3 linked regions of the Homo sapiens genome follow. The protein of the gene in region 2 interacts with the protein of the main gene of each other region in a pairwise test. Each region holds a gene or a part of one and is shown on either strand. Other genes may lie near its edges.

Region 1 (10,885 bases), on a different chromosome or scaffold from region 2:
AATCCCTCCATGTAGGGATCTCATTTGACCTAAAGATGCTGTGTTCCAACTAGTGGGAAATTGCTCACTGCTTGTCAAGCTATCGCTTATTTCCTGATCTTTAATGACTGATTTTCCACCAATCAGCCCAAAGTCCCATGCCCACCACCTTTTGGACAAGGCCTGAGTCTCTGACTCCCTAAACGTCCCAGAAGGAACTCCAAATACCTCCAAGGGCCCAGGCACCCGGTCAGCCTGGCACCTAGAAGGACAAGCCAGCCTCGCCCCAGTCCTGGGGGCCCTCTCCTCCACAGCCCCTGGCACAGCTACCCACACTACCATGGTCATCTACTTGGGGCAATATGGTAAACTGATAAGCCTCCCCCAGAGGTAGGAGCCCCGCTTAAAACCGAGGAAGCCTAGAGAGTGCCTTGAAGGTTCCTGGCACGGTTCATTAAGATGTCAACCCCTAATGAAATATTTCTTTCTTTAAATCATCATTGATCTTGGGGAAGAGGAGCCTTTGTGGAAAAGGAAAAGGCTGTCCCTCTCCTATCCCTCCCTCACCTCCAATCGGCACAGATCCTAGGTCTTTCCCAGTCAGAAAGATTGGGAAGCAGGGAATGGAGGAACAGTGGGGAGATGGGAAAGGGAAAAGATTATGGAGCAGAAGAACCACAGGGGGAAGGAGAGGCACAGTGGGGAGGGAGGTCACAGAAGGAAGCCTACTGCAGCAAGGAGACCATAATACCCAAATATCCACTACAATCGAACTGCCCCATCAGTGGGAGGCTGGGTAACAAAACAAGATGGGACACACTGATATGGTAGAATCCTCTCCAGCAGCCTCTTAAGTAAGTGACCTAGAGACACACACAACACATGCAACAAACATGTAGACATTCATCTCGGCAGCATGAAGTTCAGCAAAACACAAGTAAAAACAAGGAGCAGGCTACCTTTCATTTAAAATTTTAATTGCTTCATACTTTACTATGCCCCAAAAGTGAATAAAAATAAATAACTAAAACAAAAGAAAATTTTGAGATACCCAAGCAATACCAAAGGAGTAAGAGTAGAAAACTTACTTGGGAAGGCCAACTTCAGAAAACCACAAGGGAAGGATGGAGAATGGGAAAGAAGGAGAGTCACAGAAAGGCCTATATTAGCAATGATTTTTACATGTTTCACTTTTAAGCATAAAATGTATAGCTCAATTAATGTTTACAAAGTGAACACATGCATGTAACCAACTCCCAAATTCAAAAAGACCCCCAGAAATCCCCTTGTGCCCCTCCGTCACACCCCCACCTAAAACAGCCATGCTCCTGAGTTTTAATGCCATCAATTCATTGGATTGGGTTTTGAATTTCCTATCAATGGAATCAAACGGTGTTTTCTTTCGTGTCTGGCTTTTATGCTCAACGTTGGATTTGTGAGATTCCTCCATGTTGTTGCTCGTGGCAATGGTTTGCTCATTCTCATTGCCAAGGACTAGCCCACGGATGAGAAGACCGTGGTTTAGTCACCTATTCCATTGTTGACAGCTGTTGTGAATAGTGAGCACATGCGAGTAGATGGCCTAGCATTCTGGTGTATGCCTTTTGGTGAACATATGTACATATGCATTTTTATTGGCATATACTTAGGAGTGGAGTGGAGTGGAGTTACTGTATTATGCTGATAAAGTGGGTTTTATTTTTGTTTTTTGTTTTTTGAGACAGAGTTTCGCTCTTGTTGCCCAGGCTAGAGTGCAATGGCACGATCTCAGCTCACTGCAAGCTCCACCTCCCATGTTCAAGCGATTCTCCTGCCTCAGCCTCCTGAGTAGCTGGGATTACAGGCATGTGCCACCACACCTGGCTAATTTTGTATTTTTAGTAGAGATGGGGTTTCTCCATGTTGGTCAGGCTGGTCTCAAACTCCCAACCTCAGGTAATCCACCCACCTGCCTCGGCCTCCCAAAGTGCTGGGATTACAGGCGTGAGCCACCACACCTGGCCTATGCTGATGAAGTTTTATTCCTCAATAACTAAAAAATAGTTTTTGGCCAGGTGTAGTGGCTCATGCCTGTAATCCCAGTACTTTGGGAGGCCAAGGCGGGCAGATCACTTGAGGTCAGGAGTTCGAGACCAGCCTGGCCAATATGGCAAAACCCCATCTCTACTAAAAATACAAAAATTAGCAGGGCATGGTGGCATGAGCCTGTAGTCCCAGCTACTCGGGAGGCTGAGGCAGGAGAATTGCTTCAACTCAGAAGGCGGAGGTTGCAGTGAGCTGAGATTGTGCCATTGCACTCCAGCCTGGACAACAGAGTGAGACTCTGTCTCAATAATAATAATAATAATAGAAACATAAACTGTCTGGGCTTAGGTTTGTTGGGACCATGGGAATGAAGCAAATGTTTCTAGATGTACACACCACTACCACCCCAACCTACTCCTGAGTATCAGGCCTGCTGCTAGGAACAAGCTCATCCATCAGCCCACTTCACCTCCACAATAGGGTGGCGGCTGACCTTGGGAAAGGGCGTCTGCTTCAAAGCAGGAGACCTGGGAGCAAGTCCTCGCCACACTACTTCCTAGCTATGTGAACTGAGCAAGTCATTTGACCTCTCTTAGCTTCACCTGCAGAAGAGTCACCATTGCTGGGGTGATAAGCTGAACAGCACGTTATTCGACTGCCTGGCAAGCATTTAATAAGTGGCAACTCATGATTTGCAGTTTTGTGAGGTCAGCATTCGTCATTTTAAGTGAGGACCCTGGAGCTCATCAAGGGGAAAATAAGTAATTATGGAAAGCATGTGAGGAACACATTACCAGGCTAGAAGTTTTGCCCATCCTCCCTCCCAAACACCCAAGGAGGCCTCCCAACCTCCCAATTGATGAGTGAGGTGATGAGTGAGTTAACTGAGACTCAAACATCATGTAACTTGCCTGGGTCACACACTGGTTAAGTGACAGACGCTGAAGTTCAACCCAAGGCTGCCTGACTCTAGCCCCTGTGCTCTTAACTATGGCCCCCCTGGAGGGGCCAAGCCATGAGCCTTGGTTCCGGCCACCGCCAAAGCACCTGCACCTGCCCTGAGTCCTGTGAAGGAACAAGGACAGAAAGAGGACCCTCCTGCCTGCTCCCGGTCACTCCCACTTTGGAGCCAAGGGCTACTCTTTTCAACCTTCTTAACGAAGCTCTTGCACCAGGAAGAAGGGCTTTGGACTGGCTTCTTTGATTTCGGGGCATTTGTTCTGTATCTTTCTTTGGGGAGGCTTTGTCTTCCTCGCTAAAATGCCCTTTAGGTGAAGACAAGACAGGGTCTTTTGATGCCTTGAGCCCCCACTGTAGCTCACAGGGAGCTGGGAACTGAACTGGCCTGGAGATGAGGGGTAAACTGAACTGAAAGTGAAGCATTTCCCAGGGCAATCCCTCTGGGCAAGTGAGCCCATGTGTAAGGTACAAGGGCTGCTGCAGGAAGGGGATGGGAAAAACATTCAGTGAACCAGCCAGAAAAGGGCTGGAGAAGCCCCTCGGAGGTCACCTCATTCAATACCCCCCTACAGAAATTCTCTCTTTTGTCTCCAAAGCCCCTAGTTCTCACCCCACCCTCAGCCTTTGCTGCAAGAAGGATAGGAAGGAGAACTGAGGACATAGTCACTGGCCCAGCTGGTCTGACACAAGGACTTGCCACTCCAGGCTTGGCCTAGGGCTGTCCACACACCATGATTTCCACCAGAGCTGGGCCTCAACAGAAGGTAAATCAGATAGTACTACCAAGGGCTTTCTTTCTCCCAGAATATCCTTCCCCTCAGCTAACCCACAAGCAGGCAGTGTCGCTTCAGAGACCACCATGAGCTTCTTTCTTGTCCTCACTGAAGTGGCTCTAGTTGGAATCTGGCTCATCACTGACCAGCAGCTGTGTAAGCCTGGGCAAGTTACTTGATCTCTTTGTGCCTCAGTTTCCTCTTCTATAAAATGGAGATAATACAAATATCTCCCTCCTGGGGTTACTGTGAAGATTAAATGGCTGGTGGGTGGTACGACTCAGATGTTAGCTGTTATTTTATTCTTATGGCTATGGTTATCTCAGTTGCCACACTGGAAAGGACACTGAGATATCCACATAAATGGCACTTAGAGTCTTCCCTGCACAATTTCACACCTAGAAATCTAAAACGCTCCAGCAGGACCTAAGTATGCCTGTCCCACCTGCCCAAAAAGGCAAATACATAAAATGTGGACCTGTGCAGGTGTCACTAACATTGCAGAAAAGGGACAGAAGTGATGAAAAACAACCCAAGAGGGTGCCTCCTCTCTGAGGTCCCCTTTTCTTTCAAGGACCACTGGAACGGCCAAGAAATCCCCTCCCCCCAGGCAACTAAGCATCAATCCTTGCAGCTCCGACCCCACACCTCAGGCTTCCAGCTCCCACTCCACAGGGGCTCACATACTATGCCAGCCTCTTGTCCACCTGCCTGAGGATTTAGGGCCAGGAGAGGCTTCAAGAGCCACTGTCTTCTTGTCCTGATCCCACAACAGGATCCTCCCTTGGTCATGGGGACCCGGCATCACTGAGCTGGGTTGGGGTACTTCATGAGGACCCCTGAGGCCTCCTTCACTTCTCCCCACCCCCAACACATGCAGACAGATGGGAGATGTTTCCGGCGTGTGTGGGGCGGGGAGGGGGACGGGTATTGAGATTTCCACGGGACTCTGAGTGGTGCGTCTGCTAACAACACAGCCCTCCCCCTTGGGCCGTGGGCATTTCCTCACCCAGACCTCCCCCTCCCAACCCAAACACACCATCGCCGCCACCACCACAATCCCTCCAGTCCCCCTGGGCAAAAGCGATGTTCAGAGACGCGGGGTTTTGTTTACAATCTAATTTGTCCGGATAATTGCCTCAACTTTGCACTTCACTTTGCCCGCATGGCTCTGGCCTTGGGCCCCTTCTTCACTGGTTCGCAGAGCACTTTACGGGAAATTCCCTTTCCGCAGAGGGAGGCAGTGCGCGCCAGGGGGTGACCGTTCACAAAGCCCTGAAGGGGCCTCCCCACCTTCTACCCTCGGCTCAGGAAGCCCACCCCCAGCCCCCACGCAGTGGGGAGCAGGAGGGAGGCCAGACAGGGCCCGGGCCTGACACTGGCTCCGTCTCTGGGCCCCCGGCCACTCCCCGCGCCGAGCGCAGCCCGCCGGGAACCAGTGAACCGTGTGGGATCAGGACTTGGCCGTACCTTCAGACTCCAGGGGATGGCCGGGGTTTGCAAGCGCCCCATAGGATTAGTCCGAGGCCAGGGTGAATCCCTGGGGTCCCTCCACCTACCATCTTTTTCAGATCTGCCGCCTCACGTCTTCTCCCCACGTTCCCATTTTTCCTCCCCTAAAGTTTGGTGCACGTGGTTTTCTCTCGCTCTCAGCGGGCTGCCAGGCGGGGTGAAAGTTGCTGCACCTGCTTTAGGCGAATTATGGTAGCACTAGAAGTTGGTCTCCCCTCCCTCCGCCGCTTGCTCTCTCGCTCCCTCCTCCCTCGCTCTCCGCGCGCTCCCTCCTTCCCTCTCCACCCTCCTCCTCCCCCGCCCCCTCCCGCCCCGCCCGCGCGCCGCCCGCTCGCAGCCACTCGCAGCCCAGGCTCAGTCGCAGCCCCTCGGAGTCCGGAGCCCGCCGTCCCTGCGGACCGGACAGTGCGGCCGGCGGCCGGCGGCCGGGACGGAGCCCCCAGCCCGCGAGGAGGGCGCGGCGCAGGCGGCGGCGGCGCGGCGGGGAGGAGCCCGGGCCGGAACCAGGGCTGGGCCGGGGGCGGGGACGCCGGGGTCCGGGAGCCCGGGAGCCGGAGCGAGCTGACGAGCGTCGCGGAAGGACCGGGAAGGAAGAGCGGAGCCGGAGCGAGCCAAGCAGCCCACAAAGTGCCATGCCCCGGCGGGGTTGAGGCGCGCGGCGGTCGGCCCGGCGCGCTGGGAGGACGCCCGGGAGCTGCGCGACGCGGGGCGGCGCGGAAGGGCAGCCCCGGCGGGCGGCGGCGGGCCCGGGCTGCGACCGGAGCGAGCCCCATGCCCCGCGCGGGCTGACGGGCCGGAGCCCGCACGGAGCGGCCGGGCGGGACAGGTAGGTGGCGGGTCGGGCCCAGGGACGTGGGTGGGGGCTGGGCGGGCGACCAGACCAACTCCCTCGCTCGCGCACTCTCTCGCCCGCTCGCTGGCTCACTTTGTGTTTGCAAACTGCCCGCCCGAGACGCGCTGGGCGCCGGGCGCCAGGAGGAGCCGGGCCCGGGCCGGCGCACTTTGTTCCAGCCAGGGCCGGCCGTGGCGCACTGACCCCGCGCAGCCGCGACATTCCGCCCCTGGCCCGGGCCCCAGCGGGCCGGAGCTGCCTCGGGAACAGGTGGGGGCTGTGGCGCGGCGGGAGTGGGGGCAGCCGGAGGCCGGGGCGGGGAGGGGGGCGGCCGGAGAGGCCACCGAGGCCCGCCCTTCCCCAAGAATCTGGGCCCCGCCCCCTCCCCGCCGGGCCTCTGGGAATGGGGTGTACGGGGGCGCGACCCCCTCCCCGCCCCGAGTCAGACAAAGAATACTTCCCGGCCCAGACTTTCCAGAGCTGGGAAGGGAAGTGGCTCCCCCCAACTCTAGTCGGTACCGGACTCCCCAGGACGCGCCGGAGACAGATGAAAATGGGGGCAAGAGAGCGGGGGATCGCGGTCCTACCCGCCGTGTCGTCTCTGGTGAAGAGGGGACTTGTCTTGCTGAGGTCGCACCTCGGAAGTGCCAGGGCCAGTCAGCCCCTTTTCCATCGCTCGGTCAGCTCGGGGATAGAGCGGAAAACTTCTTGGGGACTTGAGAGCGTCTGGAAATGGCCCCTGTGATTTGTGCGCCGGAGGTGGAGGGTGGGGAAACGATCTGGCTGACACCTCTACTCACCCGCTGTGGAGAGAGCTCCCGCTTCACCACTTAAGGGGGGAAGAGAGGGCGGCCACGGGGGCCCGGAGGCCACCAGGGAAGGAGCCCGGAGTGACCGAGCAGGACCCCCCCCCGCCCCAACTGAGGAGTCTGGTATCTCCCCTGGACAACCCCAGCACCTCTCTGACCGGCGGCGCTTCAGCCTCGGGCTCCTCATCCACGCCAAACAAACTTCCTTGGGCTGCGTCAGAGCACAGCCAGTGGCGCTAGAATGCGACCTGGGGTCCCGGCCGCCCCCATAAAGGACCGGGTAATTTCGCGGAATGCGGATTTTGAGACAGGCCCAGACGGCGGCGGATTCCCTGTGTCCCCCAACTGGGGCGATCTCGTGAACACACCTGCGTCCCACCCCGATCCTAGGTTGGGGGGAAAGGGTATGGGAACCCTGAGCCCAGAGCGCGCCCCGCTCTTTCCTTTGCTCCCCGGCTTCCCTGGCCAGCCCCCTCCCGGCTGGTTTCCTCGCTCACTCGGCGCCTGGCGTTTCGGGCGTCTGGAGATCACCGCGTGTCTGGCACCCCAACGTCTAGTCTCCCCGCAGGTTGACCGCGGCGCCTGGAGCCGGGAATAGGGGTGGGGAGTCCGGAGAACCAAACCCGAGCCTGAAGTTGCCATTCGGGTGACTCCCGAGAAAGCCCGGGAGCATTTTGGCCAATGCGGGTTTTTACCTGAACTTCAGCATCTTCACCCCGGTTTCGGAGACCTGCCTAGATTCGTCCCAGCACGCACTGTTTCGGGTTCGGGATTGAGGGTTAGGGCAGCACACACAGCTTGAGGGGCAATTGTTAGGACTGGCCCGAGTGCCCGCAGAAAGAAAGAGCAGCGGGGTTGTCGTATGGCCTGTAGCTGCGGGAAGGTCTGTGCCGGTCCCACTGTCGAACCCAGAAGCTCACTTTCCACAGAAAACCAGGGCTGAAGGGCCCCCTGACCGCCATGCCCTGCGGGCACCGGGCATTTTGAGCTCTCCCCCACCCCCTCCCCCTGCTGCGAACCAGCCGGTAGGTGCAGGGGCCGAAGGCCAGGCCCAGTGGACCCAGCCGCCTGAAGGGGAGCCACGGCCTCAGAAAACCTCTGCCCGCCCCCGCGGAAAACCGCTGTGGGGAAGTCTGAAGGCCTTTTTTTTTTTTTTTTTTTTTCAACTTGAGAAACTTTTGCCTCGGGGTTTTGGGGCTCTGTTACCTGGTGGCTGGAGGGAGGATACTGGGGCTCTGCTCTTGGTACCTGGACAGCTTGTTGGCTCCCATGGTGCCCTTTCGATCTGAAACTCAAAAAACTGTGAGTTGGGGGAGTCACTCACACTCTAGTCAGTGGGGCAAGGTGGCAAGGGGAAGAGGTGGTTTTGTGGTTGCCCCCTCTCAGCCTCCACACCCAGGGCCAGGGTGAGCGCTGAATCTCTCCTGCGGGACGGGACCCTCAGGACCCACTTTATCCTGGCTCCAGCCTTGCTACTAAGTTTGGGAGACCATGGGAGCCTTCTCTCCTGGCACCAAGGGCTGGGCGCCTGGGTGGAGTTTTCTGTCCTTCTCCCTGTCCTGGACAGGTTTCCCAGGAGTTACGGAGTTGGGGAACCCCTGAGCCCTGGAGAGAGAAAGACCTGACCCCAGTGCTGGAGAACGCCAGGGCCAGAGCATTTGCAAAGGGTCCCACTTGCAAAGGGACCTGCTCCTGTCCCTTTCTGTGTAGGGATCTTCCTCACACCTAGACGCCCCCAGCCCCCTTCCTCTGCCTTTAGAGCCGAAAACTTCCGTTCTGGCTGTAGGCAGGTAGGTCCCTTCTTGCCAGGAATGTGCATATCCTGCTGGGCCCCTACCCCAAACATACCTCTTCCTTGGTGGGAGGGAAGCAGAGGGACTGGGAGAGGAAGGCTTGCTTTTGATCCAGTAATTCCCCCAAATGTTTGCTGAGCCCCTACTCTGCCTGGGCAGGTCCCAGGCTGAGTACTGGGGTACCCAAGCAGTGAAGGCTGGGGTCTGCTGTCTGGACCTCAGATTGTTGGGGTAGGAGAGACAGATATCACATGGTGGGGGGGAGGGTGGAGGGGAGAAGAATGGGAACAGGGTGTCTGTTTCAGAGGAGAGTTGTGAGGTGCAAGGGGAGGGAAGGGTTGTCTCCCCAGGAAGCCTTCCCTGCATCTTAACCCTTCCTACCCCACTGCCTTGGCGGTTTCCTGTCTCTCCAGCCACAGTGCAAGCCCCCCAGTCCCATCCTAAGCAGGCACAATGTCTTTATTTTTTGAATAGCCTAAACTGTGTGAAATAATAATTTCTTCCATCCAAGAAACTCCTCACAGTTTCCCTTCTCACAGATCTTACCACGCTCCAGCTTCCCTAGACCAAGGCAGGGCAGGTACTATTTTTGACAGGACTCTCAGGCTCCGTTGGCTGGAATGACCTCCTCAGATTTGGTTCCAGAACTCTGGAACCCAGAGCAAGGAACTGAGGCCTCCCCAGGGCAGAACATGTGTCAGAGTGGAAAAGGCTTTGGAACTTGGCATTAGAGATGGGACTCTGGAGAACTTAATTAAGCTCTTCGAACCTCAATTTTCTTACATTGTAAAGTAGGTCATAATACCCACCTTAGAGATTCTGTTTGGGAGTTAGATGAGAGAGCAGATGTCAAGTACCTTGCACGGTGCCGGGTGCATGGTAGTACTGATCAAGGGATGGCGTTTATTATTAATTTGCTAGCACTGCCAGGCCACATGTTGGTTGAATATGGAAATACTGAAGTATTAATCTTCATTTTATGGGTTGGGAAAACGAAGTCCAGAGAGAAGAGGCAACTTGTCCAAGGTTACACAGCTACATGGTAGCACAGCTGGAACTAAAATATGGGGCCCTCGACTCCCAGTATAACCAGTAGGGCTTGAGCGTGTGCTGTGGTGAAGGGAGAAAGGAAGGGATGGGAGGAGCTGCCATTCCTCCCTCCTTCCTCCATAAGCTTGGCCTAGGCCGCCTGCCTTCTAGTGTGAATACTTTCTCTTTTCCCTTTAAGTGGAGAGGGGGACTGTAGGTGCAGAATCTGGTGTTTCCACCTGCACACAACCCTGGAGCATTCCCCAGGCACTCCTAAGGTTCTTGTGAGACACACATAAATGGGAGAGAGAATTCCCCAGAATGCAGAGGAGGAAAAATGACTGATAACCCCTCTCTCCAGAAAGGGAGATTTCTAGGGTTTGGAAACCCTAGCCTACACGTCCTTATGGAAGATTTTGGCAGCAAGTCTCAGACCAGTTTGGGACCTATCACTGAATGGATCATCTCAAAGAAGCAAAAGGAAACTCCCCTTGAGCCTGAAGTTATTGGCTCCCTTCAGCGTTGCCTCCCAGGATTCTCTGTGGAAATACACACCTTCAGTCCACTGCCAGTTCCACCAAGCCGGGATCACAGCGGGAACCCTCTTTCCTCTGAATTCTGCCACTTTGGATGCTGTGGTCTTGTGAGATGTTGCTCCTGGGCCCTTGCAGAGCCTGGACGCAGGGCACACCTGCCTGATCTAGAAAACAAGAGCTCCTGGCACAAAAGGTACACATCTGGACAGGGCCGCAGGTGTTGGACCGTGGAGTCACTGTTGCTGTGGTGTGTCGCCCGGGCTGGACATGCCTGGGCCTGGCGAATGCCCTCCTTGCCTTGATCCTGGTCCCAGGATCCCTCTTGAGATCAGGGTCTTTTCCCGGCTGTCCCTCTGGCACAGCCCTGCACCTTCCTTCTCTCCTGTCTGGATGGTAGCCATACAGCCGCCTGTTCCCTGAATCCCAGCTGCTCTGCCCACCTCCCTGGGCCCCATGCTCTGGCCAACTGGAGCCTCCACAGCCAGGCCTGATGGTGGGTGGAGCCAGTTGATAGTGCAAGATAGAGGTAAATGGTGTTTCCTTTCCTGCTGCAGTTCTGATGGTCTGTGACCCAGGCTACCATGTAAATGGAAAATGGGGCGACATAGTGGGTTTTCCTCAGACTAACAGTATGTAG
Region 2 (10,265 bases):
ACTACCCTATGGCATGACCAATTAGGCTGGAAATGGCGTGGACCTATAATCTGGGATAAAACGCAGATCCTCAGATAGAGACTACCACACCAGTGATTTATTAAGATGGACTTCCAAGGGAAACTGCTGAGGGAGTGTGAGAAGCAGGACAGGGAAGAGAAGAAATGCAAGCAAAGTCCCAGCTTCAGCCTGGTCCTGCAGAGCGCTCTGGAGTGGAAGTTATGCTTCAGAGCTGTCGCTACTACAGGAGGCTGGGAGCTGCCCTGTTGTCATCCTCCTGTACCCATCAGATGGTGGTAAGCATTTCCAACTCTGCCAGGATGAGCAGAGAAAATCAGTAGCCCAAACTGGAGAGATGTTAACGGAAAAGCCTAACAGCAGACGCAGGCTTTCAGAAGTAAAACCATGGGCCGGGGAGCGGGGAGGCGGGGGAGCATCAAAAACAGAGCTGGGATGTTATCTGCCTGAGGCTCCTCCAGTGTAAAATCATCCATCTCACTTTGTGGCCACAGGTTAAAGTGCTTAGAAATGTATCATGGGATTGCCTGAATATTAATGACCAGGTCAGAAAATGCCTTATCACTTTCACCTTACTGTTTTCACTGGGTCTCATTTGCCATAAAAGTCTTCAGAGACAGAAAGCAGGGCTAATCTCATCTTTCAAAAGACTAGCTAAAAAAAAAAAAAAAAGAGTGGTGATACTCAGAATGTATTTTACTTATTTTACATAAGGTCATAATGACCTAATGGCACAGACAGGACACAAGGCTCAGCCACACCCTGTGTCTAGAAACACGTTAGTCTCAGGCTCATGCTGGAGATCCCATATCCTGGCATTGCATGACCTCTAATGTGCTGTATCCCTACCCCAGAACAAGTGACTCAATTTTATGTTCCTAGTTTAGACCATGTATGTTTCTGTTAGCAAACCAAAAGAGAAATGTAAGGATAAAAATAAATAAATAATAAAATATTGGCAAAAGGCTGTCTATCTCTGACTCCAGCAGATGCCATGACCTTGTCATAAAGTGTGGATAGGGCATCATTTTATCAAACAAATACATTTTATATTCTTAAAAGACATATTTATTAAAATAAAAATAAACTAAAAAGAAGCTCTTGAAAATATGGCTCTATTCTCTTAACTGTGTTATTTTACATCATCAAATGATATGGTGACAATGAATCAGCCATAACAGGGTAATTAATAGTTTCTCTTTGGAGAACTGACATTTGAAATGTTATTTATTATGAATTTAAGTTTTTCATCTGGAAATCTTAAACATGAAAAACTGGGCAGGGTTTTCTTTTCTAACAGTTCCAGGTTTATTTGTAAATGTTTACATATTATTTTATTTTATACACACACACACACACACACACACATACACGATTTGTTCTTGGTATAACCATGAAGCACAAATCCAGGAACACAAAATATAAGGTGACAAAATGAACACACACGATTTGCTCTTGGTATAACCATGAAGCACAAATCCAGGAACACAAAATATAAGGTGACAAAATGTATTAAAATGCTTTTTATTGAATTTGATAATATATGAATAATAGAGATCATGAACTATTTCTGGAAAATATTCAATAGACTGAGGATATGCTACAATGTTTATTTTTGTTTATTATAGCTGGCAAGTCATTATATCATCCATAAACATCTGACTCCACTCAAAAAAGTCTAAACGTTTGGAAAATCTATGGTTGGTTTCATGGGGCATAATATACCATATTTTCCATTTAACAATGCTGCTGGTAAAACCAGCTGCCCAGTCCGGCTGTTAGTGACTACAGTACATACAGCAAAAAACAATCTGCCTGCTGACCTCCTGCTTAAGTTCAAACTATGTCATTCTGTCAGTACCATCTACCTTGATTAGGTTGGGCTTTATACACAACAGGTTATGATCCCAGAGGGATGAAAAGCTTTCCTAAATTAAAAGCAGAATTTTAAAAGGAAATACTCATACATTCCTACGCAGTTTCCATTTGATATCCTCAAGGCTGGCCCATGAACTCAAGCTCATGTTGATTGAAAGTGAATGTTTCTTTCTAGGTGTAGCCATCTTACAAATTTAATGGCAGGAGGAAAATAATAAAATGTGTTTCATGCTTCAATTAGACCTTTTATAACTTGGCACTTGAAAGATGGCAACGCCAAAGAAAAATCATTAATCCATAAAAATAGACAAAAAGGATTATATGGGAGAAGACAGACCTCCAGGAGTCTAGGTCCTTGGCAAAGTATACACTCTCGCCAATATGGTCTGTCTTTGTTTTGCCTCATTGTGAGTCTTCTCTCATGCTTCATGCTACTTGGATAAAATGTATACTGTATTTGCTTCTAAAATCCAAAGTAATACAACCATGCTTTCAATTTTATCCTTAGCCAAAGGAGCTGTATACATAACCAGGCAATAAAATGTTGGCTAGCCATGAAATGCCTATTCATGCACATGAAGGACAGATGAACGAACACACACACACAACACACACACACACACAGAGACAGAGAACTGCAAAATACAGAGCCAAAAGATAGATCCTTCCAATTTTTATTTTGCAGTAGTATGCAACAGACTTTCTCAAAAGGACCAGAGCCTTTCATAACCCCAGTCCAGACAACTATGGACACACAAATATTGCCCGAGTACTTTGAATCACGAGAGAAAGTGGAAGAGTGATGTCTGGAACATGTGAGAGTCTCTCAGGACCTCCAAACTCATTTTCAAGTGATGTTAACAGACTCTGTCAATATTAGAATGTATAAATTAGCTAAGAGTCAAGGGAACAAGAGATTTTTACCTCTCTTGGCCTCCTGCCATACCGAAAATGTCAGCACCAAACCTCAAACAGTCCCACTGTGTTTCTTCCTTGCTCCCAGTCCTGAAGTTCCAGCACCGCTGAAGACCGTTACCAAACCACAATGATTGGTATCATCACCAGTTCATGCTGTGAACTTCCCAAATCCTGTGATCTCAAATTGACCCCCTATCACTTCCAAACTGTCCACCCACTTTGGCCTCCCTTTCAACACCAAATTTTGGAAAGTGTCATGTACTTACTTCTGCATCCTCAACAGCTAATCACTCTTTAACTCCTGAATTCTGGCTCCTGTCCCCACTACTTTAATGAAATTATACTCTAAACTTCGCCAGTCTTCTCCCAACCAACTGCCAAATCTCATGACATGGTTTTAAGCCTCTCTCTCTTAACTTCTCAGCTTTCCACAAGTAGACAAGTCTTCTTCTGGAAACTCTCCACGCATGTCCTCTATACTCTCACTACTGTCTCCCTCTTCTTCCTTCTCCACCTGCCCCCATCTCCTGGCATTTCTTCTCTCTTTCCTGGGGCTGGTGCTGCTGCTGCTGGTGGTGGTGATAGCAGTGATTTCTCCCCTTCTCTCCCCTGACTCTTCCATTTCCTGTCCCAGGCTCTGTGACAACATCTCTAATCTCTTGCTCTAGTCCTGATAACTCTTCTTCCTAGCGCCAAACTCATATTTTCTTTTTCTTTTCTTTTTTTTTATTATTCTAGGGTACATGTGCACAACGTGCAGGTTTGTTACATATGTATACATGTGCCATGTTGGTGTGCTGCACTCATTAGCTCGTCATTTACATTAGGTATATCTCCTAATGCTATCCCTCCCCCCTCCCCCCACAAACTCATATTTTCAATGACTGTTGCACATTTTCACTTAAGAAGTTGGTCAACACTTCAACGTCAAAATAACCCAATCTAAAACTATCACTTTAACCTTACTCCAACCACTCTTTCCATGTCTTCCTGGATTCCCTTCATAATTACACCTTTATTCTCAGGCATCAGGCTTGAAGCCTGGTGTCAGTTCTATTCCTCTCTTTATCCATTTATACACTTTCTGTCCATTTTATTTCCAAAATATTTCTTCTCTGCACCCTCCCCAGCAGCCTAGTTCAAAACCTCTGTACATTTCACCTGGATACTTGCAGTAGCCTGCTAAATGATATTCCTACCCTCTTGCTATCAAACCTCCATAAGACCTAATTAAGATGGTGGGAGCACAGCATATTCCTACCTAAGACCTATGACGGTTTCCAGTGCCTGTTAAAGTTCAGAGCTCTTGTCTTGGCACTCAAGGCCTTTTTCAATCTGTGTCCATCCCTTTTAAGTTTTATTATCTACCTTTCTTATCAACTACCAACTATACTTGCAGTTTTTATACTTACAAATTGATAATAACTCTTTACAAGCAAAGAAAATATAAAAAATATCTTTACACCAAAAAGAGTAGTTTTTCCCATAAAAAGGTAGAATATATATAATAAGAGATAACAAAACTTGCCACGAGGCCAGTAAGAAAATCCCAACCATTAACAAAAACTTATTTTTCTTTTTTTCTTTTTCTTTTTTTTTTTTGAGACAGAGTCTCGCTCTGTTGCCAGGCTGGAGTGCAGTGGCGCAATCTCGGCTCACTGCACCCTCCACCTCCTGGGTTCAAGTGATTCTCCTACCTCAGCCTCCCAAGTAGCTGGGATTACAGGCACACGCCACCACGCCCAGCTAATTTTTGTATTTTTAGTGGAGACGAGGTTTCACCATGTTGGCCAGGATGGTCTCGATCTCTTGACCTCGTGATCTGCCACCCTCAGCCTCCCAAAGTGCAGGGATTATAGGCGTGAGCCACCGCACCCAGCACAAAAACTCATTTTTCAATGACTCATTAATCATACGACAATTTCAAAACTAATAAAAATTTAAATCGCCTACATAATAGAAATACATTTCAATTCAACCAGAGATCCAACACACTTTCGAATAAAGAGAGAAAAAATGTATTAACTGACTTAACAAAAACGCTATTTATTTAACTCACGCAGTATTGCTTAAAGAGTATCTACAAAATTCTTACCTCAATGTTTTCTTGCAAGAGACGTGGAAACCAAAAGTAAACAGACCCTCTTTAACAATGAACCACTGATAAACATAAAATATTTATAACTGGTATAACATTTCACTTAGGTGCATTTTTTGAGTGTTAACTTGCATCAGGCAATCCAATTTACCAACATTTATCAGATTTCTCCCCAGTGAGAGTTTTCACTTAACTTTTTTTTTTTTTTTTTTTTTTTTGAGATGGAGTTTCACTCTCACTCAGGCTGGAGTGCAGTGGCATGATCTCGGCTCACTGCAGCCTCCGCCTCCTGGGTTCAAGGGATTCTTCTGCCTCAGCCTCCTGAGTAGCTGAGACTACAGGCACGCATCACCACGCCCAGCTAATTTTTTTGTTTTGTTCTGTTTTAGTAGAGATGGTGTTTTACCATCTTGCCCAGGCTGGTCTTGAACTCCTGACCTCAAGTGATCCGCCCACCTTGGCCTCCCAAAGTGCTAGGACTACAGACATGAGCCACTGTGCCCAGCCCCTTAACTTCTGAAGTAATCATTAAATTTGGAAACATTCCTGTATTTTCCAAATTATTGAGGTTTCAATCCAGCATGCTTTCTTTCATTTGTAAGGTCCATCTACAGCGTGTGTTATCATGTGTCTCTGAACAGGTATCAGATAAATGAAAGCATTCCTACATTCTGTACGTTCACAGGGTTTTTCTCAGAAATCAGTTGTTTTATGTCTTCAAATTATTCCTGCATTTTTTAACTCAACATCTTTCCTATGAATGTCTTTACCTTAAAATAATAATCTTCTTCTTCATCATCTTTGCCTGCTGTACTTTATTAATCCTTCAAGGTCTAACCCATTGACAACCTAATACTCTAGAGTGTTGTTTACATATGTGCTTGCCCATTATCTTTTTCCTCTTTGCACCCACATAGAGCTTAGCTTCCTGCCTTGCATTTACGAGGGTGCTGAAATTTTAATCTACTGTTTTCTTGAAGGCTTACCATATTCATTCTCCTGGAAGTATTCCTCACCTCCAGCTCACCATGAACCTCCACCACAACTATTGCTTACACTCTCCAACATTACTCATAACACTTCACATTTTACTCTAATTATCTGGTTACCTGGTTTTCACCACTAGATCGTTAGCTCCCCGAGATTATGCACATCTGCTTTGTTCTTACTCATATAAGGGCTAGGTAAGTTTTTCTCAACATGCGGCCCCGGATCAGTACCATCATAATCACCTGGGATCTTGTTAGAAATGTCCATTTCTGAGTCCAACCTCAGACTTACTCAATCAGAAACTATGGGATGAGGCCCAGCAGTCTGTGTTTCACAGCCCTCCAGGTGATTCTGATGCACACTCCAGTTTAAGAACTACTAGCAGAAAAGAATGTCTTACATATAAGCACCCTCAATAAAAATAAGACGTGTGAATTAACTGTTTACATTTTCAACATTTAGTGTTATAATTGGCATATAATTCTCTCAAACATTAAAAATAAAAGTAAACTATCCATTATCATTTTATCAATATCTTAAATCTAACTTTTATGTTTTGAAGGATTTTTATAAATTTTTAAATAAAACTTTACTTATAAAATTATAAAACATAATTTTATTTCTTTTATAACGTTCAAAACCAAGGGAAAAAAATAGATTGTCTGGGCATGCATAGTTTTATAATTTGTTTTAAAAAATGGCAAGAGACTGATAATCACAAAATTCAAGATCAGGGTTACATCTGCAAACAGTAAATGGAGAGGATGAGAGAGTACATACCCAAGTCATTAGTAACATTTGGGGTCCTGAGTTGCATGTTGGGTTCAAAGATGTCCATTACCTCATCAAAATTAATCAATTAGTTAATTAATCATGGTCATGCATGGATCAATGGTAATAGCGTTTCATTAACTAAGGATTATTAATTAATCTAATTCTATGTCCTGAGATCCATAAAGCTTTTTAAAGAGATAAAAATAATTATAACCTATCTCAATTCTGTCCCCAGTATTACTGTTAATTACAGTGTTTAATGCTAATTGTACCTGTGTGCGGTTGAATGCCACTCTTGCAAAGACAGCTTGGGACACACTGGCCCTCTTCAGCTCATCTCTGACTTGCTGGTAGATATCTGGAGAGACTTCCACGGAAGAGTTGGTTGGCTCTGGCTTAACTGCTCTGGGGATGGGTGGATGGTTCAGGAACTGCTGGTTGATGGCTTGAGGATGCTGGTGAGCCAGGAGCCGGCTAACGGCAATCTGTTGGTTTATCAGATGGGCCATGGCTATTTGTTGCCTTACAAGTTGTGGACTAAGCTGGGGAGAAAGAAGACCAGGGCTCATGATGGGCTGTAATGCGGGCACTTGGTTTCGGATTGGAGTACTGTGGTGAATTTGGCTGTGAGGAGACTGTTCGTTGGTTTTCCCCAGGGATGCCAGCTGGTTCATATTTGGTAAATGCATTGGACGCTGGCCCAGAACACAATAGTCTGAAAGGTTTTCTCGTTCCACTCTTTCCACTGTTAAGAGATAAAAGTGATAATTAATCATTATTTTCATTGGTACAATTTATTGCTAATATATGTAGAACTGAATTATCATACTTTTGGCATGTTAATAATATAAACATTTTTTCATACAACGATGGAAGCTCCAGCATAAAAGTGATATTCTTTTCTGCTAAATGTTACAATAGATTTTTTTCATGGAACATATGAAAGAAAGTAAAATTATTTGCCACTTCAATTAGTTAAAATTCTTAAAAGTAAGCATTTCTTTAAATAGCCAAGACAGAAACCACTGACCATTCTAAATCCTCTTAGATCCCCCAAGCTCTATCATCTCCCCAATCAACCTTTGTTATAAAAGCACCAGCTGTTCCTATCTTCTGTAGTATGTAGTTAATGGTTATCAGGAAATGACAAGGATAACATCTCCTGCCAAATTAAGTGCTACCTTCTAGTAAAAAGCTCACATAAATATTATTATACAGCTATGGAAATGTTCATTTAAAAATGTCTGCCACATAGTATATCCATTTATTGACTCACTTGCTATCTTTTTTATAGAAATGTTTCTTTAAGAAATTGATATTTTAAACATTGTGCTATGCACTCAGATAAGAAAAAAAATCACAAAATTAATAACATCACCTCAACTTGCCATTAAATGAAGTTCTCCTCAGGTTATCTGCTTTATTACATTATATTGTGCTTTAATAAAGATTAAAAGAATAACTTTGAAAGGGAAAAGTAAGTATCATATATATACAAGCATAAGGCAAGTATTTTTCTTTCCCTAAAATAATGTCTTAGGAAAGACAGTCACCTCATAGCCAAATCCTTATCCAAGTCTCTGTATTACTCTATCATGAAAAACAAAGTTTGGTTTGGAGAAAAGAAATGGGGCTGAAGCAATCCCAACATTATTAGTTTTAAATGCTTATAGGTGTAATATAATCTAACAAGATCTCTTTTTCAAAGCAAAAAATCCATACAAATTTAGAAATTATTTCTTATAATTGCAAATGCTGGATATGACTATGCAAAAGTCCATTAAAGATAACTTTAAGAAGCTAGAGATCAAACATATTCACCTATAGAACACATATAAAAAGTAACTGTCTCCCTATTATACAAATGGAATGTGTGGTTTGCCATATAGTTAACCGTGACAGAATCATGGTTTTATAAAAAAAAAAAAAATACTGAGTCTCAAAAAATTTAGGCAGAAATGATGTGTGCTGGACAACTGGGTGAGATGACTGAAAACAGGGGAGTTGGTGATGACAGACACTGATGCCAAATCACATGTGAAGCACTGAATAAAGTCAATGAACTGTATGGGTGGAAAAAAGTAGTATTTCTAAATTAATACTTCATGTAATATGTGACTTTAAAAATGTATATGTGGAAATAAATTAATACATTAAAATGTGGGTAGATATTTAACTATTTTATATCCATGTCTACAAGTTTTATGCATGCAAAATATCCCATTAGGAAAACATGTGAACACCCGTCTTGGTATCACCTTATATTTAGACATGTACAGTGCTTTTTCCTGCTTTTTAAAGAAACTCAGTTAAGCTGGGCATGGTGGCTCACACCTGTAATCCCAGCACTTTGGGAGGCCGAGGCTGGTGGATCACCTGAGGTCAGGAGTTTGATACCAGCCTGGCCAACACAGCAAAACCCCGTCTCTACTTAAAATACAAAAATTAGCCAGGCATGGTGGCATGCGCCTGTAATCCCAGATATTCGGGACGCTGAATCAGGAGAATCGCTTGAACCCCAGGAGGCAGAGGCAAAGGTTGCAGTGAGTAGAAATCACACCACTGCACTCCAGCCTGAGTGACGAGCGAGACTCTGTCTCCAAAAAAAAAAAAAAAAAAAGAAAACCCGATTTCTTGCTTAACATTCCTATAAACTTCCAAATAAGTCAAGAGTTTACTTCCAACTTCTTTTAGGGCTCAATTTCTAACTTAATCCTTACAATGTTTGCTTGCTTTTTTTTTTTTTTTTTAAGACAGAGTTTCACTCTTGTTGCCCAGGCTATAGTGCAATGGCGCAATCTCAGCTCACTGCAGCCTCTGCCTCTCGGGTTCAAGTGATTCTCCTGTCTCAGCCTCCCAAGTAACTGGGATTACTGGCATGCACCACCATGCCCAGCTAATTTTTTGTATTTTCAGTAGAGACGGGGTTTCGCCATGTTGGCCAGGCTAGTCTCAAACTTCTGGCCTCATGTGATCCACCAGCCTCAGCCTCACCAGCCATTGCACCCAGCCTAATCCTTATAGTGTAATTCATTTGTTTTACGTATCACCTTTCCTTCATAAGGTTAAGAAAACAAATTATTTTACTCATCTTCTAAAGGCAAACCTTTTTCAATTATTGTATTAATTAAACTTTAAAGTACATAGTCTTAAAATCAAACCAAGCAAATGGTTAGGAGCCTTCAGATAACATAATCTAACAGTTTCCATAGAACAGGAATTAACATCATAATTTCCTCACTGAAAAAAAAGGTAAAGAGACCATGAACTGATTCCACAGTAAAATCTTATTTTATAGACAGAAATATTTGGTTTCAGTTAAATATTTGATTCACTTTTGCTTGTTTATTTGCTTTTAATTCAGTCAAAGTAAAGATAAATTCAGATATTAAATTATGTTTTCAGGTTCTTAATAAGGAAATATTTTATCTATTTCATTTTTTGGTGGGGGGAGGGGCTTGAGACCGAGTCTCACTCTGTTACCCAAGATGGAGTGAAGTGGTGTGATCTCCATTCACTGCAACCTCTGCCTCCCGGGTTCAAGCTATTCTCGTGCTCAGCCTTCCGAGTAACTGGGATTACAGGCATA
Region 3 (10,265 bases), on a different chromosome or scaffold from region 2:
TTTATTTAAAAGGAACAGTTGTACATCAGTGCAAGGAAGGCTGCATGGGGAGTCACCCTCCCAGCAGTCTGTATTAAGCATTACGGATGGGGATTTTTTTTTTTAATGGCTGTATTAGTGTTTCAGCAGTAAGAATTAGGACTGGCTGCATAATTTTGGAAGCCCAGTGCAAAATGACAATCTGGGGTCTTTGGCTCAAAAATTAAAATTTCAAGACAAAAATGGCATTAAAGCAAGTACATGCCAGGCATGGTGGTGTGTGCCTGTAGTCCAAGTTACTTGGGAGGCTAAGGTAGGATGATCACTTGAGCCCAGGAGTTCGAGTCCAGCCTGGGTGATACAGTAAGACCCCTATCTCTAAATAAAAAGGTAATAAAAGCACATAAAATCAAGTGCAGTGTCCTTTTAGGCATGAGATCCTATGTGACTGCATGTCACACACCTGTGAACCAGCTCTGCTAAAATACCCTACATTCTTTTAGGAAGAATTAGTTATGCTGATGATGATTCCTTTAAAAAACACAAACCCTTAGTTAAGGCCAGTTTTCTTATTTTTGCCAATCTGTTTCCATTTGAGGTCATATTTTTAAATATTGTAAATTCAGCAGGAATGCTATTTTTTAAATTTTCCTAGCTTTACAATTTATAATGTTTATGGCTAGATGAGATTCCACTGTGTTGACATATGTCAGTTTCTGAATACTAGGCATTTGAGGATCATCTTTCTCTTTCTCTTTTACTGTTTGTATAATACAATGACCACTTTTATCCATTAATCTTTCTACTCTATTTCTGTTGATTTACCTCCTTAGGATAAATTTCTAAGAATGGAATTGTTAGAGCAAAGGCCAAAACATCTTTATGGTTCCTATGATTTATTGTGATATTAACTTCCAAAGGGGCTATCAATTTAAACTCAATCTCATCAGCAGCAAGCATTATTTGTGAAAAATATTTTGTTGCTTAGCAGGTACAAGGTAAGCTCAGGTTACCTTAAATTGTGTTTCTCAGATTACTGACAATGGTGAACATTTCCTAATGTTTGTTTCAAACTTTCATTGTTGAGAACTGCAACTTCATAAATTACTGAAATTTATGTTTTAGCTATATGCTGATTGAGGTTCAAATGTTGTTTTCCAAATCAACATTTTCCTACTTTCTTAACTATCAGGTCTATCAATCTTTTCATGTTTATAACCCAGAATTGAATGATAGAAGAATGTAAGATCATACAAGACCTTGGGGAGGGGGAAGGAGGATGAGGACCCCTAGAAGAAATAGAACCATCCATCTCCATCTTAATGAAGTTCTTGCTGTATAATTTTAGACTTTGACCAATATTTTGCTAACCTTATCCAAAAAATCAGGTGCATGTAAAGCCCCACAAAACACAGTTCACAACATCAGAGAATATTTCGTTTACCTAATTATCCTCATTTGATCATTACACATTGTATACATGTATCAAAATAACACATGTACCCCCAAAATATGTAGTTACGAGGTATCAATTTTAAAAGCTGTAGAAGTGAAAAAACAAATAAACAAAACACGTTTTCCCCCTAAATTGGTAGCCAAAATTCATGAGGATTATTTACTATCCACAAGACAGAGGTAATGATCCTGTCATGCCTGTAGGCTCGACTCCCAGTGCCTCATGCAGAGTGGATGCAGAGTGGGTCCCCAACAAATGTTAACTGGCTAGATCTACTGTGTGACCACCTGATGACACAACCAGGTTAGACAGTAAGGTTTCGAAACTTTAGAGAAGTGAAATCCGATTTCGGGACATTTCTTGATGCCGGCAGATACCCCTGGGGTGTGGCAAACGTGTAGCACAAGCACACAGCACTTCAAAGAACAAAAGAGGATGGGATTCCACGAAAGATACATTTGAGATGAGATGCAGACTACTGAAGACACTACACTTCACATACACTCACCGTGTCTCCTGGAAGTTAGGGCTGTGTATGATGCACCTTCCTCTCCTTGCAGACACTGCCCCCACCCTTTCTCTCCAACTCCTACTTCCGAAAGGGCTACCGCTGAATAACTGTGTGCAAAACCACACATTTCCCTTCTCCTTACATCTGAGTAATTCCTTTGTTTAGCCACTCTGGGAACACAAGAGTTTTAAAATAAAGCTGACTGGCGTTTAAAGGCATTGTGTTCTGGGGGTGTCTGCACAGCATGGAGTATTTTGCTTTGTAGCTCCTTTAGCGCCTATCAGGATAAAAGTAGAATGCCCCAAAGCCATAATTATGTGACCACTTTCTAGTGTTTCAAAGGACGAACGAAACGTAGTGGTATCTGACTGTCACAGAAAGGGTAAGAATGAAGAGTTCTGTTTCAACACTCAATATTAGCTAGGCCGCCTTCCTAACAAGGTCCTTCAAGCCGTGCCGTAAAGTTTATGGCTTGATTTATTCCAATAGACTGGAACAGTTGAAAAACAATTTGCATCATAGCAGGGTAATGCATATTGGACAAGAATGGAAACTCTTGTCACTACAGAATTCTCTTAATGGAAATATGAGGTCAAAAAGAGTAACAGTCTATTACACAGATAGCAGGCGCAGGGAATCTGCTGTTGACATATAATTACATTTAGCAAACAGCACAAACCTGTGAGATTTGAGCAACGCATGTTGACATTTTTGTGTAGGGTTTCTTGTAAAAAATAGTTGAAACCTTCATTTCATCAAAAATTACAAAGACTATTGTAAAACATGGTTTGGGTAATACTGGGGTTAATTCAAATTTGTTAAACAAATTAACCCTGCAGTGACTTTCTTTCGTACAGCAAAATCAGCATCACTCTGAACTGGTGCCTGTGGCTTGTATCCAAGTATCTCTTTGTTTTAGTGATTCTTTATACTAATAGGAATATATGTCAACAAAAACTTGGAGTTTGTACAGATTATGAGAAATAGCATCACTTCCATTCAATAACCAGACATTTTTGTTCTGAGTATTTCTTGCAGTAGCTTATACCAATTTACGTTTGCTCTGAACTTCGTTAGTATCTAAGTAAATACTCGTGTCATGACAATGATTTAAGATGAATACAAATGTGGTAACAGGAAAATCGGAAACACTAAGTTGCTTTGGAAAGGATGAAATATAGCAGCATCAGTGTGAAAGATAAACACACTCTTAAAATGCTGTGAAGCAAATGCTAAGATACTGTTCATATAAATTAAAAATGATTATTTCCATATCCAGAAAGGATAGTAAAGATCCTTTCTGAAGTGCTGTGGAGATGAAACTCAAATGCTAGAAAATCAAATTTCAGATTTCCACGTACCCTCCAAATTATGCTGGCAGATAACACTTTTTTCTTTGTCATTAGATGCCAATTCCATATGCTCCTAATTGTTACAGGTCATAATTTCCATTCCGATCACTTAAATTATCTTAAAATAAGATGTTGGTCAGTAATTCAGAAGTAATGTGTAGACAAGCAGCCTATTCTAGGAACTGACAGTACTGCAAACACGAAATGGGTTAGTACCTTAAAGTGGGCAACAGTTTTGAAGAACCTCACTAAAAGGGAGAGACTGTCATCCCACAGCATCTCCTGCAAAGCCAATCATTTGGAATAATGTGGTTTCTTCGCTCTGTTTGAAAACTTTTCCTGGGAGAGAGGGTGTTATAGTTACACCAAGTTCTCTCCCATCACCCACTCACAGGGGCATCACAGTCTCCTGGCCTCCGCCTTTCCTGTGGTTTGCAGTCCTGGTTCCATTCACATTCAGCATGGGCAGCCATCGCCCATCACTTCATTCAGTTATATGTGCACTCATTATACTGCCGTCTGCTGCTATAATGCTCCTATTAATTTTCCTTTTGATATTTTAAGAGCAATCTATAAATCATGCCGCCTTTCATTTGTGCCATCATTAATGGTTGGTAATAATGCTGCGGCGGCGTGTTCGTGGTGAACCTTAGTGCACCACCAAGTAAACAAGCATCTTTTTCTCTCGGCTAGGTTCAACATGCCCGAAAGTTGAACAAACTGCAAACTTTTTCATAGGAATGCATATTAGTTTGAGGAGGAAAAAGTAGTGTGGCTTAAATAATGGCCTGGGATGTGATAAAGCAGAGGGAAAAAAAGCAAACCTGTTTCTCATTTTATTGCTGTGAATTGCTTTTATGGGAAAGTTAGCAAATAGTCCTTTTATGCACTAACCAAGCTGAACATTTCTTGAAGTACAAACTTCTAGCTTGGTTCTGGGAAATCAGAAATTACAGAAAAGGTATATAAAGCCCAGAGAAAGGGCTGTCTCCCTGCGTGTACCTAGGGAGACTAGGGTCAGATAGCAAAGACCTGTTGGGTGGACAATACTCACACGGCTTGCATAGGAGATCTGCCTGGACTGCTGTCACTCTCGTTGCTGTTGGTATGCTCCATTGCCCCGTTCAGCTCTTCCCGTATTGCGCTGGCTAAGTTGCCCAGAGTGGGATTTCCCATGGAAGCGGTAGTGTATAGAGGTATACTATTCTCAGCCATTGAAGCCTGTCATCAACCAAGAGAAAATTTATGAAGACACAGGGTATGTAAGACAAGGAAACTACTAATTATGGGTGTACTCGATAATCTTCAGTTTGAGTTAATTGTAGCATGGCTGGCAAATACAAGTTTCTAAGAGGTGTTGAAAGATTTTGCTTTAAAAACGACTCGTGGCACCTGTCCCAAGCTTGGTTTTGAAGAGCTAACTGGGGGCCAGGGGGGACCAAGTGCCTGTGGGTAGGAAGGACTCAATTTGGTCCTGCTTGGTAGTCACATGGTTTAGACGGGCTTTCGAATATGAGGTTTATGTCGGATGCGTTTTTAAGAGGAGCTGAATATTTCCAGATCACAGTGAAATATAATAGAATTTTTATTTCTTTATCCATTTTGATGACTCCAGTATTGGATATTAGAGATTTTGATCAGATTATCCTGGCCGCACCGCTCAAACTTATGAGAACTTCCATAAACATTTACCTCTTAGATCCTATAGAAAAGGAAGAGATTATAGAATTGGAATCAATTTTTTATCTCCTCCCATCATTTCTGTTTTAATGATTTTTGAATCTGTTTAGTGCAGTTTGAGATAACTGGTTGAAGGAAACACCACGTAGTGTTTCAGAGTCCGACCAATTGCCTAGGATTTTAGGACTAAAGAACTCTGGCAAAGGGAAGCTCTAACTCATATTTATTTTTGGTGCCAAAGTACATCAATATTAAAGGTTACAAAGTTACTCCACGTGAGTGTCAGCAAAAAAGTGAGGAAATGAAAAAGAAGAAATCCTAAACTTTATTTAGGATAGGTAGGATATTATTCACTTCCTGTTATACTGCATTTGAATAAAAGGGACACCAAGTCTGAAATGCAGACGCTAGTTACATATACCACTGGACTAAGTAAGGTACCCAAAAATTTGTTTCATCCAGGTGGTGATTACGACCCACTGACTTTTCATTTCATTAAAGAGGACACTTTCAAAAACTGGCAGCTGTAATTAAACCAAGATTTATCACAACTGTCCTCCTGCAGACTAGACTATGCCTGCTTTTCCATCCTAATGAGAAGAAAAGTACATTAGATGTACTTCTTTTCACAAGATGATCTGGCATAGTGACTTCCACTGGCCAGTCATACAAGAGTCCGAACTATTCTAGAAATCCTGGCTCTAGAAAGAAAGTAAAAGCCAAAAGAGTGCAAAGCTGGGCTGCAGAAATCTGTCTGGCTAGTATGACAATCGCAGCCTCACTCACTGTACAAACCGCAAAGCCAGGGCTTTCTAGGTACAAGCCCTGTGTTAGAAGTCCTGTGCACACTCACCAAACACAGCATTGGATAATGGACTGTTTCAAAGCTCGGCCCTATGTAAGCCCACAGCTTTTCCTTCCTTCTACTTGTAAATGTGTATAACTGCCTTCTTTTAAAAAGTAGGGGGAAAATCCTGTGTTTATTTCCAAATGTGGTGAACTCATTTTGATGAACAGCAAATGTGAACATTCCACACTCTCCTACAGTGTGTCAAATAATTTGCATCAAGTACTTTTTCCAACAGCTCTTTTATAATTGCGATAAAGCTTTTTTTCTTTCTTTCTTTTTGTTTTTTTTTTGGCAGAGCAGTTGCCAGAACTACTATTATTTGTTTTTTTTTTTTGTTTTTTTTTGTTTTTTTTTTTTTTTTTTGCAAACTGCAGTTGGACAAGCATCTTAACTGCTTTTATCTGAGAGAGGTGTGACCACTGTTGTCTCAGTCACAGAAATTCTGCTGAGTGTCTTTCCACTGGAAATACCATAAGATAAGCTCTCATAAGACAATTTCACTATTCCAAGGTCAGAATGTGGCAAAAGTGGGGCTGCTGCTAGCTTAATTATTTTAGCAGCTTCCCTGGTCAAAAACTGTGAAGACAAAATTGAAATGCTGATATGAACGTGTTCATTGGGATGAGTTTGTCATCCTCTAGAGAAGGCAACTTTCTTGGGATGAGTATTTATTCTCTTTGGCTCTCAAAGTATTCTAGGTCAAGGCCATTGCTGATTGGGATTGGATCATAGAACATGGGCTGAGACCCAACAGCCACAGTAGTGAAACGCATACAAAGGCAAGCACTTATACTGATCCCTGGGTTCTCAGGCAAGAACGATGTAAGTGATGAAAACCAGCCTTGTCCCTTGAAAAAATGATCAAATGGGCTGCAGAGAGATCCCAGTGCCTGATCCGCAAGAGAGCTTCTTGAACACGCTCTCTGTTAAGCAAGTGATCAGAGCAACCCACCCAAGGTTAGATAAATTTTCACTAACTGCTTCTGCCTAACAAAGTGTTTTTTTTTTTTTTTTTTTGGTAGTTGATGTCCACTTAGAAGCAGGTGTGTTACAAAAATGGAGTTAATTATATAAATGGTCCTTGCACAGCATGTGGTTTCATATCAAGCTGGCACCTCTGCCAAAAAATGAAGTTGCTTAAGTAATGGTGCAGAAGTCCATAAGCACCCTCGCTCCTGGAACATTAACCACTCTGAGATCCTCAGGGGAAAGGCAGTCTATAAATACGAAGCTTTACGGTTACCCTTAGTTACTTCACTTTTCAGAGCATAATGCAATCTGTCCCAAGTCCCATGTTTTATTTCTGTAGTGGATTCTGCTGTCCTATTTTATATATTGTATATCATGCATTATGTTGCTCTAGTAATTTTTTTGAAGATATTGTTCCACTATTATTTTTACTTGTCTTGAAAAATGGAAATAGGCGGTAATGGAAAGGAAGGCCTGCTGGCAGAATCCTTATTTAATTTGCACAGTAGAAAGTTGTCTTATGTGTCTGTCTACTGATCAGGGATCCAAACTCGTAGAAGAGAGGGAAACAATCCACTTCTCAAATCATGAATTTGTATCAATTTATTCCCCTTGCCTCATTATGGACGGAAAGTGTTCTTGGAAAACGGCAGGACAGTTTTGGGCTACTGAAGAAGATGCCAAAAGCAAATGTTCAGAGATGAAACCTGAACAGTTCTGTAATGACAAAGCATACTAATTGAAATTAGTCACATAGTTAAGAGAATTCAGAGGATGGAGGATCACTTTTTTTTTTTTTTTGCCTTTCCGGCTCATGAATATAAAATGTGCTTGTAATCTTAATACTATTCCATATTCCAGATAGAGCAGGCTTTAAATTCACACTTCACAAGACTCCAGGGAAAATAAGTTACTAATGAATGGTATTTACAGTGGCAGCATCGAAGCATGCTTTCATTTACTCTTCTAAAGTTACTGTGTAAACTACAAGTAATTAAAAGAAACGCAGAAAGTAGTTTCTCCTATTAAATCTGGTTCAGGCTAAAAATAAATAAATATAATTACTGAAATGCTAAGGCCAGTGAATCTGCCTCTAAACTGAAACTGGGTAAATGGCCTATCATCAATTCCCAGGAGCCTTAAGACTATTCTGGGCCTGTAGGGTACAGAGTCGTGCTCCATAAATATCTGTTTAATGTCCATAAATATCTGTTTAATGCAGAGCAAGACCCAGGGCTCCTGTCAGTATCTCCTCCTTCCTCATCCTGTTCCCATCATACTAAAGGTCTCAACTGTTTTTTCATTATTGTCCCTTTTTAGACTTTTGTTTCTCTCTTTCTGCCCTCACCCCAAGAAATGTTCATATTTGCTCAAGTATTATGGTCCTTTGGAAGGACACAAGACATTGCAGTATCTCAGAACCAATCTAGGGGTGATACAGCCCCCATTGAGAATGTATGCTGCAGAGGACTGCAATGGTATTGGATGACAAATGTCAGATTTATCTATAGAATATGCTTCTCGAACAGTCTGGGTAGGGGCAAAAACAGGACCACTGGCCAAAAGGATACTGCTTACTTATGAACTCTTGAGGGGGGACTTGAGTACTACACCCAGGTACTTTAATGAAATGACACTGGAGTAGCCTTCATTTAAGAACTGAAATGTGCAACATGTAAAAAGTTTGCTAGAAGCTGGGCTGCCTCAGGTAGCTCCTTTTTGGGTGGTAATCTCGCTCCTGCTCAAAACCCGCGTCTTCATCTCCTGGTACCATTGGTGATGTAACAAGTACTTGGTTTGTCAGTAGGAAATAAATACTCCGTGTGATTATCATGTAATCTTGAACAATCTGCAGGAAAACTAAAGAGTCTTCTTAAACACCTCTATTGTTTAAACAGACATGGTTTACTTTTACAAAGTGAACCAGACCCCAGATCCTCCCCACCCCAGACAAAAGCCAAGATGCTACAGTCGACTTTAAAAGAAGAAAAAGAAATACAAAGCCCTGCTTTCTCTTTAAACCCATGAACAATAGAAGGTCATGTGACGCAGTGGCCTATCATCCAGCACATTAATAGCTGTGCTAGAGTAATTACACTTGTGGTATTTTTGCCTCAAGTGAAATTCTGAAATAAGAGGATGGAAATTATGATACTGCTGATAAATATTAATAAGTGAACTTTTAATTTTTTTGCCACAATATTCAAAATGCTAAGCATCCCGCTAACGCTGAAGCAGCCCGATGTGTTTGCCTCCAGGGAGTATGATGCTTTGTGCACTTAAGAAAAAAGTTTAACGGAATTAAAATTTAATATCTAATTAGAGCAAGGCTAATATATTTTGAAATGAGTAGGGGAGACCTGTGCCTCTGCTGCATATTCGGGACGGCCGTTAATCTTACCTGTAAAGCTGCATTGAGAGGTGTGCAGTAGGCGTGGCTGCTCTGCATGTTTTTAATAAGGGAAGGGTTACTGTGTAAGAAAAACATAAAAACTCAAAGTTAAACACAGTCGACTGCTGAGTTCCTAGCTAAGTTTTGTTTTAAGCTTGCTGGTGCCCTTCCAAATGAGCAATTTCCCCCACTAGCAAAACCCAAGAAAAGTCAGGCTTTCTCCCCGTCACTGATTTGCAGGGCGGGTGTGTGTGCACACCTCTGGGGTTGGACTTCTCTATTCAAGGAAACTAGGTGTAAAATTCTGGCTTAGGTAGTAACAGGCTTGGGTCCTCCCTCCAGAGACCTCTCTGCAGATTTTTAGGAGTTAGCCTGACTCCAGACTCCAACAGAAAGGAAGGCAGCAGCCTAGGAGGTCGTGCTGGGGAAGGCAGTGAGCTCACAGCAGGGGCTGCTGGGCACGAGCAGAGAGAATCTTGGCTCCTAAGCATCTTTGAGATTTGAACTTTACAGTGACTGCTAGAGGGATGGCAGGAAGGCTTTTAAGGAATATCCACAAGGCACGTTTATTGCCAACAGGCGATGGAGAGTAGGGTATGCCAGGGGAGGGTCGTTCCTAAATAAGGGGATGTCTTAGCCAGATCTGGGAGGGTCTGAGAATATTTGCTGCCATCTCCATTCACGGACCAAATGAAACTAACATACTGTTGTCAGAAAATCTCTAGCCTCGTAAGGATAAAAATATTAAAAAATTACATAGGGCATACTGAGGGAAAAGGGTGCCTCCCAGTAGGCAATTACCTACATTTATCAGTGGTCTTTAAAGGAAGTGTATGCAATATGACCTATTTCTTTACTATGCTTGGAACATTTTAGTCATTCACTTCATTACATTTGTATTATTATAGTGAGTGAACAAATAAGAAATCTACCCCAATAGTATATACACACATTTTAACTAACCAAAAATTCCCTTTTTACTTGGGGTGGGGAGAGAGGGGGGATTATGGGTTAAGCACAAGTATTTAGTTCTAGGGTCCCCGTAAGCTGCTGAATCAAAATAGAACGAATATTTG

What was found.
Region 1: the proteins of SATB2 (region 2) and FOXP4 come close enough for resonance energy transfer, tested with the Homo sapiens proteins (one study listed by BioGRID).
Region 3: the proteins of SATB2 (region 2) and FOXP1 come close enough for resonance energy transfer, tested with the Homo sapiens proteins (one study listed by BioGRID).

Annotation. Positions count from the first base shown.
Region 1 is NC_000006.12:41,540,793-41,551,677, forward strand, and holds the start of FOXP4 (forkhead box protein P4), read left to right. Parts: upstream 1-5,588; 5' UTR 5,589-6,075; intron 6,076-6,668; exon of another isoform or gene 6,669-6,753; intron 6,754-7,585; exon of another isoform or gene 7,586-7,829; intron 7,830-8,054; exon of another isoform or gene 8,055-10,441; intron 10,442-10,885. UniProt on the Homo sapiens protein: Transcriptional repressor that represses lung-specific expression.
Region 2 is NC_000002.12:199,341,753-199,352,017, forward strand, and holds part of SATB2 (DNA-binding protein SATB2), read right to left. Parts: intron 7,422-10,265; coding exon 6,949-7,421; intron 1-6,948. UniProt on the Homo sapiens protein: Binds to DNA, at nuclear matrix- or scaffold-associated regions. Thought to recognize the sugar-phosphate structure of double-stranded DNA.
Region 3 is NC_000003.12:70,961,538-70,971,802, forward strand, and holds part of FOXP1 (forkhead box protein P1), read right to left. Parts: intron 9,269-10,265; coding exon 9,199-9,268; intron 4,520-9,198; coding exon 4,353-4,519; intron 1-4,352. UniProt on the Homo sapiens protein: Transcriptional repressor. Can act with CTBP1 to synergistically repress transcription but CTPBP1 is not essential. Plays an important role in the specification and differentiation of lung epithelium.